Regions from separate parts of the Homo sapiens genome. Here region 2 is linked to region 1. A link means that fine-mapping ties the variant in region 1 to the expression of a gene that starts in the linked region. Tissue or cell type: lung. Region 1 holds a variant in brackets; the other region holds the start of a gene. All regions are shown on one strand. Distances are from middle to middle.

The links. PIP is the estimated chance that this variant, and not a neighbour inherited with it, causes the effect.
Region 2: COLQ starts here. The variant in region 1 is fine-mapped to the expression of COLQ in lung (TOPMed, PIP above 0.99).

What each region holds. Positions count from the first base shown.
Region 1 is chr3:15,687,894-15,693,044 of GRCh38, reverse strand. ANKRD28 (ankyrin repeat domain 28) reads left to right here. Exons shown (of 28, transcript NM_001349278.2): 18 at 2,825-3,026. It also overlaps a transcript of BTD not described here. Among named protein-coding and RNA genes, the nearest start is that of MIR3134, 6.9 kb to the left of the region's middle. The variant T/A (reference allele first, on the strand shown) is at 3,016.
Region 2 is chr3:15,518,835-15,523,985 of GRCh38, reverse strand. COLQ (collagen like tail subunit of asymmetric acetylcholinesterase) reads left to right here and starts at 2,280. Exons shown (of 17, transcript NM_005677.4): 1 at 2,280-2,466. The coding sequence starts at 2,361.

The DNA.
Region 1 (5,151 bases):
CTAGACACCTCATTTAAGTGGAATCATAACAGTATTTTTTTGTGTTGTGTGACTGGCTTATTTCATCTAGCAGGTTTCATCCATGTTGTAGCATGTGGCTGAATTTCCTTATTTTTAAGCTGAATAATTATTGTTATGTATATAGCACATTTTTCTTTATCCATTCATCTGACAATAGATGCTGGGTTGCTTTCTTCTCTTGGCTATTATGAATAAGTGCTGCTATGCCATAGGTATACTAAATAGTGTTTTTAAACTAAAAATTGAAATAATTTAGTGATTAGGCTTAATGAAATATGATTATACCACCACTTTTGCATTTCATATCTATCTCTAGGAGGTTTTCAGAAGTTACTTTAATTTCTTACACGAAACTCTCCCATTCGGGACAACTTGGTACAGTGAAAACATACTGATCTGAGGCTTAAGGAGACTGGCCTTGATTCCTAATTTTAGTCATACTGGACATTTGGACTTCTTCTCTCAGTCCCATACAAGGATATCATGGGGGGAAAAGCCCTGTGGCAAATCATCATGGCTCCCATTTATTTCTCTTGTCTTTTCATTTTTATTTTTTATTTATTTTTGCTGTTGTTTTTCATTGTCTCACTCTGTCATCCAGGCTGGAGTGTAGTGGCACAATCACGGCTCACTACAGTCTTGAATTCCTGAGCTCCAGTGAGCCTCCCTCCCTCAGCCTTCTGAGTAGCTAGGACTATAGGTGCACACCACCATTCCCGACTAATTCTTTATTTTTTTGTAGAGACAAGGTCTCACTGTTGCCCAGGCTAGTCTCAAACTCCTGGCCTCAAGTAATCCTCCTGTGTTGGCCTGCCAAAGTGCTGAGATATAGGTGTGAGTGACCATGCCCAACCTCATTTTTTTTTTTTTTTTTTTTTTATTTAGAGATACAATCTCATTCTGTCACCCAGGCTGGGTTGCAGTGGTGCATTCCCAGCTCACTGCAGCCTGTACCTCCTAGACTCAAGTGATACTTCCGCCTCAGCCTCCTGCATAGCTGGGACCACAGGCATGTGCCACCAGGTCCAGCTTATTTATTTGTTTGTTTATTTATTTTTGGCAGAGATGAGATCTCACTGTGTTGCTCAGGCTGGCCCCAAACTCCTGTTCAAATGATCCTTCCACCTCAGCCTCCCCAAAGTGCTGGGATTATAGGTGTGAGCCACCACAACTGGCTAAACTCTTCTTTTTATATTGTCTTTTATATTTAATGTATGATTCCTCAGAGTTCATTCTTTCAGTAGCATAATTTTCATTGACCTAGTATTGAGGAACAAAGTTAGATGTAATCCTAAAACAGTAGAATTCCGTGACCTACAGTCACTTTAATCTTTGAGATAGTCAAGCTTAAGTAGTCAAGTTTCTACACAGATTCATTATAAAGAGATCAGTGAGGCCCAGAGCAAGTTTATCTCTTGCTGCTACTTTCTGACATTTTCTACAAGAAATGGCATTATAGTCCTTTGAAGTTTATTTATTTCTTTATGTCCTGCTCAGCATTTAGTCCAGTGTAAATAATATATGTTCAGTTGCCATGTTGGATTTTGAAAAGACTTTTCTGGAAAGCCCTTTTATTAGACTGTATGAAGAAGGCAACTCGGGGCCGGGCGCAGTGGCTCACGCCTGTAATCCCAGCACTTTGGGAGGCCGAGGCGGGCGGATCACAAGGTCAAGAGATCGAGACCATCCTGGCCAACATGGTGAAACCCCGTTTCTACTAAAAATACAAAAATTAGCTGGGGCATGGTGGCATGCGCCTGTAATCCCAGCTACTCGGGAGACTGAGACAGGAGAATCGCTTGAACCCAGGGAGGCGGAGGTTGCAGTGAGCTGAGATTGTGCCACTGCACTCCAGCCTGGTGACAGAGTGAGACTCCGTCTCAAAAAAAAAAAAAAAAGACAACTTCAGTCTGACAAATCTTCAGTCTTACTTTTGTACAGCTAGGACAATGCCTGGTATGTGGTGATATTCAAGCAGGGCTCGGTTATGCATTTCTTTGCTAAAAGAATTACTTCTTTTTTAGCTATGGCACATTATGGGGTGGGTATGGTCAGTTTAATTTGAGAAATCCGAATATTCAAGCACTGACTCAAGTTGCTAGCTGTCTTTGCAGTTGATGTGGAGCACTGAACTGTGATTAAGAACACAGGCTTGGCTGGGCACAGTGGCTCATGCCTGTATTCCTAGCACTTTGAGAGACCAAGGTAGGAGGATGACTTGAGGCCAGGAATTTTGAGACCAGCCCGGATAGCATAGCGAGACCCTCATCACTACAAAAATTAAAAGAAAAATTAGCTGGGCATGGTGACGTGTACCTCTGGTCCCTGCTACTCAGGAGGCTGAGGTGGGAGGATCACTTAAGCCCAGAAGGTCAAGGCTGCAGTGAGCTATGATCACGCCACTGGACTCCAGCTGGGGCAACAGAGCAAGACCCTGTCTCAAAACAAAACAAAAAAAACACAGGCTTTTTAGAATCAGACTTGAAATCAAGACTTTAAATGAATCCGTGTCACACATCCATTGAATGTCTGCCGTGAGCCAAGCATTGTATACTCATGAAAAGATGACCTGTCATTTGAACTTGTATTATTTTTAGAATGCCTGTTCCCTAACACAGTAGCCTACTATGTTGATTATTAGAAAGATCTGTAGTTAACTTCCTGAATTCTCGATGTAGAAGTTTGGATTATCTCAAGTAGGATAATAATATGAAGACAAGTTTGCTTATTTACATTTATTCAAGTATTTAGGAAGTCAGTCTAAATATGTATGTTTTAAATTTACATTTTTATTTATTTCTAGGCCTATCATGGTCACCATCAAGCACTGGAAGTGTTGGTACAGTCTTTGTTAGATCTTGATGTCAGAAATAGTAGTGGAAGAACACCCCTAGATCTTGCAGCTTTTAAGGGCCATGTTGAATGTGTGGATGTACTCATTAATCAGGGAGCCTCAATCTTAGTAAAAGATTACATTTTGAAGAGGACACCTAT[T/A]CATGCAGCAGGTATGCCAGATATTATGCTTGATTTATTTATAACTTCTATCCAATACTTTTTTTCAATTTCTGATATATAATATTTCCAGTTAATTGTCTTTAAAATTTTGACCTTTTTTTTTTTCAAATCATATATGGATTATTTGACCTCACCAAATAACTTTATTCACACAAATGAATTTACAAAGCCTCCGTCATTCATAAACATTAGGAGTATCCCAGTGTTCAGGGAACTTAAATACAGTGTATTATATCAACCCAAGTAAACCAAGCACAAAAAATATTCATATAAAGTTGTTTACATGTAGGTCCTAGACTACCAGCTTCTGTGTGAAAAAGGAAATAAAAATAGATTTATTAACTAGTGTTTGAAACTAACTTTGTGCCTGGCTTAAAACCTCCCTCATGCTCCAGCCTGTCCCACACAAGTGTTTAAGAAGTCATTAAAACTGTCCTGCTCTCATGAAAAGAAGCTCCTCTGCACAAAAGATGTAAGTGCCCCCAAGTAGCTCCCTTCCTCCTGTGGCCTCTCTTGGAAAACAACCTTGGCAGCCTCCTTGCTGATACCTTCTGCAATTTTAGGGGCCCCTCAGGGGGCAGTGGCAGTGGATTCATCTTTTGATGATGGCTGCAGATGCTAACATTGGCCAATTCTATGTCACACCTACTGGTTACTCTTTGAAGGCATTTCTCCAGACAGAAGCCCCACTACCGTCAAAGCTTAGGTAGGGCAGGATCAGAGAGGCGCCTGTGTTGTTTTGAAGGTTGTGCTACAGCCTGGACTTATCTCTGGACTTCTCCCTCTAAAACCCAGTGGCCCAAAGAGCTGAAAAATGTCAGCTTGGCTCTTCAAAAGTTTCCAGACCCAAGGAGATTACCAAGAGCTACAACTGTCTGGGGAAATTTTTGACTTTAAGTGGTAAAATGATTGTATTCTCAGGGAATACCAACAACAAGACTATCATCACTTAAAACATTATCTGCCTTAGAAGTTGGGTTTATGTAATAATCTAACTTCTGAAACACTTTATCAACAAAACAATGCAGTATTTATTTCTTTCTGGTAGAAGTTATTTTGGATTGGTATAATCTTTCATTTAACAAGTGATACACGTTTTGACTTATTTTACCAGTGTACTGCATTAAACATTTATGCAGACAGGCTTTACAGAGCACTTTATGCAAGAACTATTCCATATTGTGATATTATGATGTAGCAGATACGTTAAAATACGAAGGTCTATAACCAAGTCAGTTAAATGACTTGCTACCCACTGCGTATCACTGGCAGATGCAGATTCACAACTCTCTATTTTTATAGAGTGATCCTTAAGAATACATTTGAATATATGTCTTGGATTTTTTTTCTAGTCCTTTGGGAAGCTTACATTTTAGAAGACTATTGATAACACCCACTGTTACTCCCAGAGCCGCCCTTCAAAGCTATCAGATGTTCAAGTGGGGCTGAGAAAAATATTTTAATAATACATTAGAACCTCTAATAAACATATATACACTACTATATGGTTTGAACAAGAGGTTAAAATGCATTACTTGCTGTTACCTTATTCTGAAAAAGAGTGAAGTTATATATCACTTTGCAAAGCCAAACTTGGTGGCGCATGCCTGTATTCCCACCTAACTTGGGAGGCTGAGGCAAGAGGGTCACTTGAGTTCAGTTTCATTGCACTCTAGGCAACATGATGAAACCCTGTTCCTAAAATATAAAATAAAAATCAATTTTGTACACTGGATGGGATCTGTGAAAAATAAGTACATTTTAAAAATATTAATCTATAGCTAGAAAAATTATAATTGCAGATCATATGCAGAACTAATTTAAAGCTTGCATGGAGTGGTTGCACTCTCAATAGGTAAATATTGAACTGAGACATTAGCCAGTCCCTTAGAAGTAGTTAACCAATGCCATATAGTTCAGCATAAATCCTACCCACAAAAAGAACCACAGGTTACTCTTAGTGCCTATCTATTCAATAAATGCAAGCCTTGTATCTATAGATGCCTTTCAAATTTGGAGGTCTATAGAGAGCATCTATAAGCCATGAAAAGAACACTGAGGGTTTTTTTTCCTGGAGGTTTACCAGTCATTTCCCACAGAGATGCTGTGCTTGCT
Region 2 (5,151 bases), 170 kb after region 1:
AAAGTAACTTACATTGTTGAGGATCTGTTAGGTGACAAGGACTGTCCTGGGGGCCTTGAGAGTACATAGAGCTGTGGGATAGTCCCCTATCTTTAGGGATGTTAATGCCAGCTAAATAGCAACACAAGGTGGTGTTCAAAAACAATAGCAGCAGGTGTCACCGGTAGGACGTATTGACAGAATTTGTTCCAAGGGTATGGTCAGTGGTGAATTCTTTGTGCTGAGAGAAGGAAGAAGTCATACTGGCTTTGCAGAGGAGGAATCTGAGCTAGATAGTAAAAATTCATATTCTGACACCAAGTTACTCAAAAGATACCTTCCTCCCAGGTAGACTGTACCTTCTCCAAGCCACTGGAAGCTGGCTGCTGGGGCTCCAGGAGTTAACAAGAGTGAGCCTGAGAATGTCCTGATTGAGTTTGGCCAGCAATCACAGCTCCTTCTTGTAAAAATTTTGGGAGCAGCTAAATGGGGGTACCCTCTCTTTAATCTGTCCTATAAATTTTGAATGTAGTTCAGGTATATTTTTCATGCTTTCAAAAGCTTTCCTTATCAACTCTGTATCAGTTAGCTATTGCTGATGAGCAAGTCATCCTAAAACTTACTGGTTTGAAACAATAGCCGTTTTATTTGCTCATGACTTCGTAATCTGGGCTGGGCAGTTCTTTCGAGGGTCTCACTTGGGGTCACTCCTGTGGCTGGCATCATCTGAGACCAGGACAGGGCTAGATGTTCCAAAATGGCCTCACTCGCCTGTTGATGCTGCATCTGGGATAGTCAGAACAGCTGGAGGCTGGCTGCTTCCCCCTCCATGTGGCCTCTTCAATAGTCCAGACTTTTTAAAGTGGCAGCTGATTTTCAAGAAAAGGCAAAAGCAGGAGCTGCCAGGCCTTTTAAGGCCTAGGCCAGGAGATGGCACAGTGTCCCTTTAGCCACATTCTATTGGTCAAAGTAAGTCACAGAGCCACCTCAGATTTAAGGGAGGGGAACTAGCCCTGCTTTTTGCTGGGAAGAGTGTCATGCACACACTGGGTTGGGAGGACTTTTGGAGGCCATCTTTGCACCCAGGCTACCATGGCTCCCTTGGGTCTCCTTTGTGCTGTTCCTATGTGCAAGTTCTAATCCGTGTAGGATTCATCCCCATTACCTCACTTAACTTTCCAACAAACCTTTAAAGGGAACATTGTCTCCATTGTATGGATGAGAAAACTGAGGCTTAGAGAGGTGAGCTTGTCCACTGCCACTCAGAGCTGAGAGTCAAGCCCAAGTGTGGTGCTACAGCTGTAAAATATCACTTTATACCACGCCCTGACCCAACTCCACCTTCCCCATAATGAGCACAGGGGCAGGATGCCCACCCCAGCATCCAGTAACTAGCAGACTGTTTCTGAGTTAACTCCTATGAGGCATGTAATATGTAAATTAAAGCAAAATGAACAACTCTGTGAATTATTATTTTGTTTTAGTCATCTAATCATCTCTATAACAGGCTTTTATAAACTCATAAAAGGTATTAAGAATGTGATAATTTTTATTTGAATAATTTTGTCTAGCCAAAGATTAAGTTAGTGATGTTATTTTTCTGAATATAGTTTGATAAAAATCATTCACTTTTCTATACTTTTACTGTTTTCATTTATTTTGCCTTGCATTGAATCAAAAGGTTGCAGCTTTTGGAGAGAGAAACACTTTTTCACAGAGAAAGCTGTTTGGAAATATAAACTACTTCCTTCCTCCTTTTTATTGGATGATTAAAGAAAAAAATTAAAAGTTAACTTTACATTTGTTACACAATGGGTAAAAATGTCACAGGCTGACAGTGGAGGGGTTTTTCTCCATGAAATTCAGTTTGAATCAGGAGAGTTGTTTCTGCCCAGTTCCAAGGAGGTAGATGGTGGCACATAACCAATTAGGAATCTCTCTGCCCTTGAGGACTGCCTCCAGTGAACATCTGAGACTTGGCTGCCTTCTCATCACCTCTTCACTAGCCACTTACCTCAGTCTCCAAAAAAGAAAATTTTGACATCTTAATTTTAATGTGGGCATTTGATATGGAGCTTGAGATAAATATAACTCTCTGTAGCATGGAGACAGTTTAATGGGAAATGGTTGGCATTCTTTCTTGGTAAAGGCATGGGAGACAGGAGAGGTGGGGGAGGGAGAGAGAGGGAGGGGGTGAGGAGGAGGGAGAGGGAAAGAGAAAGAGGGAAAGACACACACACACACAGACACACACACACACGCACACACACACACACAAACACACGCGCACGCAAACAGCAGTGAGGAAGAGAAAAGCAGAGATAAGCAAGGCTCCGCAGCAGCCTCCTTTCTAACTTGACCCTCGCCAGACCCTGGCCAGCATGGTTGTCCTGAATCCAATGACTTTGGGAATTTATCTTCAGCTTTTCTTCCTCTCTATCGTGTCTCAGCCGACTTTCATCAACAGCGTTCTTCCAATCTCAGCAGGTAAATGATGGCCACAACTTTCCTCTCTTCCATCTGTCAGGGGACAGGGGGAGGAAGGAAGATTGTTTTGCAATGTGTCCTGATGTTTTTGCCATTCAACTGTTGGTGGAGGGAGGTTGGAAGGAAGACGGCCACCCCAGCAGCTTCCTGTCACCCGAGCTTGTCTCGGAAGCCCCTTCTGTCCTTGTTCCAACCGGCTCCTACCTGGCTGCTCAAAGCAGAGACACTTTGAAAAATGGTTTCTGCCTCCCCTATTCTCCCCATTTGCTGCATGATTTCATCTTGGTCAGGAATTTGGGAGAGCTTAAAAGAGACAGAGGTGTGCAAGTAATAGAGAAGTGAGTCTCAGATGTTTCTATAAATACATCTCTGACCTCTTCGAAGGGGGCTTGCCTCACAGGGGCTGTTGTGGAGTAAACAAACCTCTTTCCAGACCCAGATAGCATCCATGGCCACAATAGTCCCTCGAAGGGAAAATGCAGGTGGCAGGGGCCGGTGGGGTGGGGGGTGAACAGCGGCGGGGCAGTTGCAGCCTCAGGACTAGGTTTTCCCTTTCTCCAGACCTGTCTTCCTGGGTGCGACTTCCCTTCAGCCTCAGACAAGGCAGCTGGAGGTCCTGAGAGAAGTGAGCTTTCCAGGGAGAAGTGGAGGGGGTTCCACAGTGACAGCCAGGTCTGGAGCTGAGTGTGTCTGCCGGGTATGAGGCTGGGAGATTTGGGGAAGGGGCTGTGTCTGCCAGCCTGCAACCTTTTCTGAGGTCAGCAGCCTGTTGCCCTTGTCTTGTCTGACCCAGAGCAGGGGAAGTATTCGGTTACTAGTATGGCCTATTTAAACCTTTCTGAGGAAACTCAAATGTTTCCGGAGGGCTTGAAGGAGGCAGGCAGACCCTCACAGCCCCCCTCAATTCACCTCAGTGACCCCTGACTCTCCCCAGCAAAGTTTTAGTTATGCCTCCAACATGAGTCTCATAAATACTTCAACTGAGACAGAAATTTCACTATCGCTGCCTTTGCTGGAAACACAGGGAGGGCCAGAAATGCCAGGCTCTCAGAGAGGGCACATCTCTGAATCCAGCTCCCAACTGCTGTCCATTGATAAAAACAGCTCATCAGCAAGTTGTGTAGCCAACGTTTGTGGGCCATGAGGGAGTGACTCAGAGACTGGTGTGAGGCTAATTATAAAAGTGTGAGAAACAGAAGGAGGTGGGGGCAGATTTGTGGAGAATTCAGGAGGGTGGGCAGGAAAGGTGAGTGGTGGTGTCACCGTGGGTGTGTGCCCACATGCCCCTGCAAATTCAAGTTAAGAGCATCAAGCTTCTTCTAGGAGTGAGTAGTCATTATTCATTCCCCAGTTCAAGGGAGAAGCTTGAGAGTTAATTTGGCCTAATTTGGTGGTTCTTAATCATGTTTGGGTCATGGATTCCTTTGAGAATCTGCTGAAGGTTAGGACTTAAGGAAACTCAGTTTTCTGGTTCTAGCCCTGCCTCTGATGAGCTCCCTGACTTCTGAGAGACAGTGGCCTTACACTATAAGCACCATGTGGCCAGGGCATGTGTCTCTCTTGTACTTTACTGTTTTCCCAGGGTCAGAACAGTGCCTGGCACATAGTAATCAATAAATATTTGATGAATGAATGAATAAAAGCTTCTCATCTGCAAACTGGGGTTTACCATCATTTTGTATTACTTAATTTAAATAGCACCAAAGTGGTTAAGGAGTTCAGAAAACTAGAGAGAAAAGAACCTCTGGTTTTCTTTTGAACTCTTTGCCTTGGAGAGCACCCTGGCACAACATAGATATCTCTTAGGTAAGCTTTTTGCAGACTGTACCAATCAGGGCAACAGCAGGATAAAGAAGCAACTCAGGTGGTTCAGATGAAAAGATCTGAATGAAGGGATCACTTTGAGAGGTGTGGGCGGGGTTAAGGGAACCAACAAGGAATGCTGAGGCACCTAGAGATTAGCAACTGCAATATGCCTTTACCACCCTGTGCTTGAAAAGGCAAGAGGGGCAAATAGGAAAATGGATCCCAGGCAGATTTGGAGCCTTAGAGAAGGGGCCATTAAGCAAGAGCATTGGTCATGGAAGGCCCTAAAGCAGGGAGAAAGTGAAGGAGAAGTACACCATCTTCTCTCTCCTCCCATCCAAGCACCTTTTGGCAGCGCCTCTCATTGGCCAACCCAACTTGAAGCCAGAGGGCAGAGCCTGGAGGTCAGGGACTGGAACACTGAGGGCAGAGAGCCAAGGGGAGGGTTGGGATGGAGAACAACCAGTGCGCACATCCACAGGCACTTCTGGCTGGGAATGTGGTCATTAGACATTAGGGAAAACAATGGAATAGACCTAGCGGGAATCACTAAGGTAACCAGCTCAGTATCACAAAGATATGTTTTCTCCGGTGGTCACTTGGCTTTGCCCCCCTAATTTAGTCACCATGGCTTTATGATAGCACAGTTCAGAAATAAACTTAAGCTTTAAAAAAATGGAAGCTGTTCCTTGTAATCCTTTGGAAATATTTTCCAACAGTTTGATATAAAATATTCTATATTCAGAAGCTTATAGACTCTTAATTCTTCTGAAGATAGGCTGTGTATACACAGAAAATAAGGGCAACCAGGAAAATCTTTTCATTCTATGCATTATAACTTAGTGAGTGCCTACTGTGTGCCTGGCACTCTAATGTGTG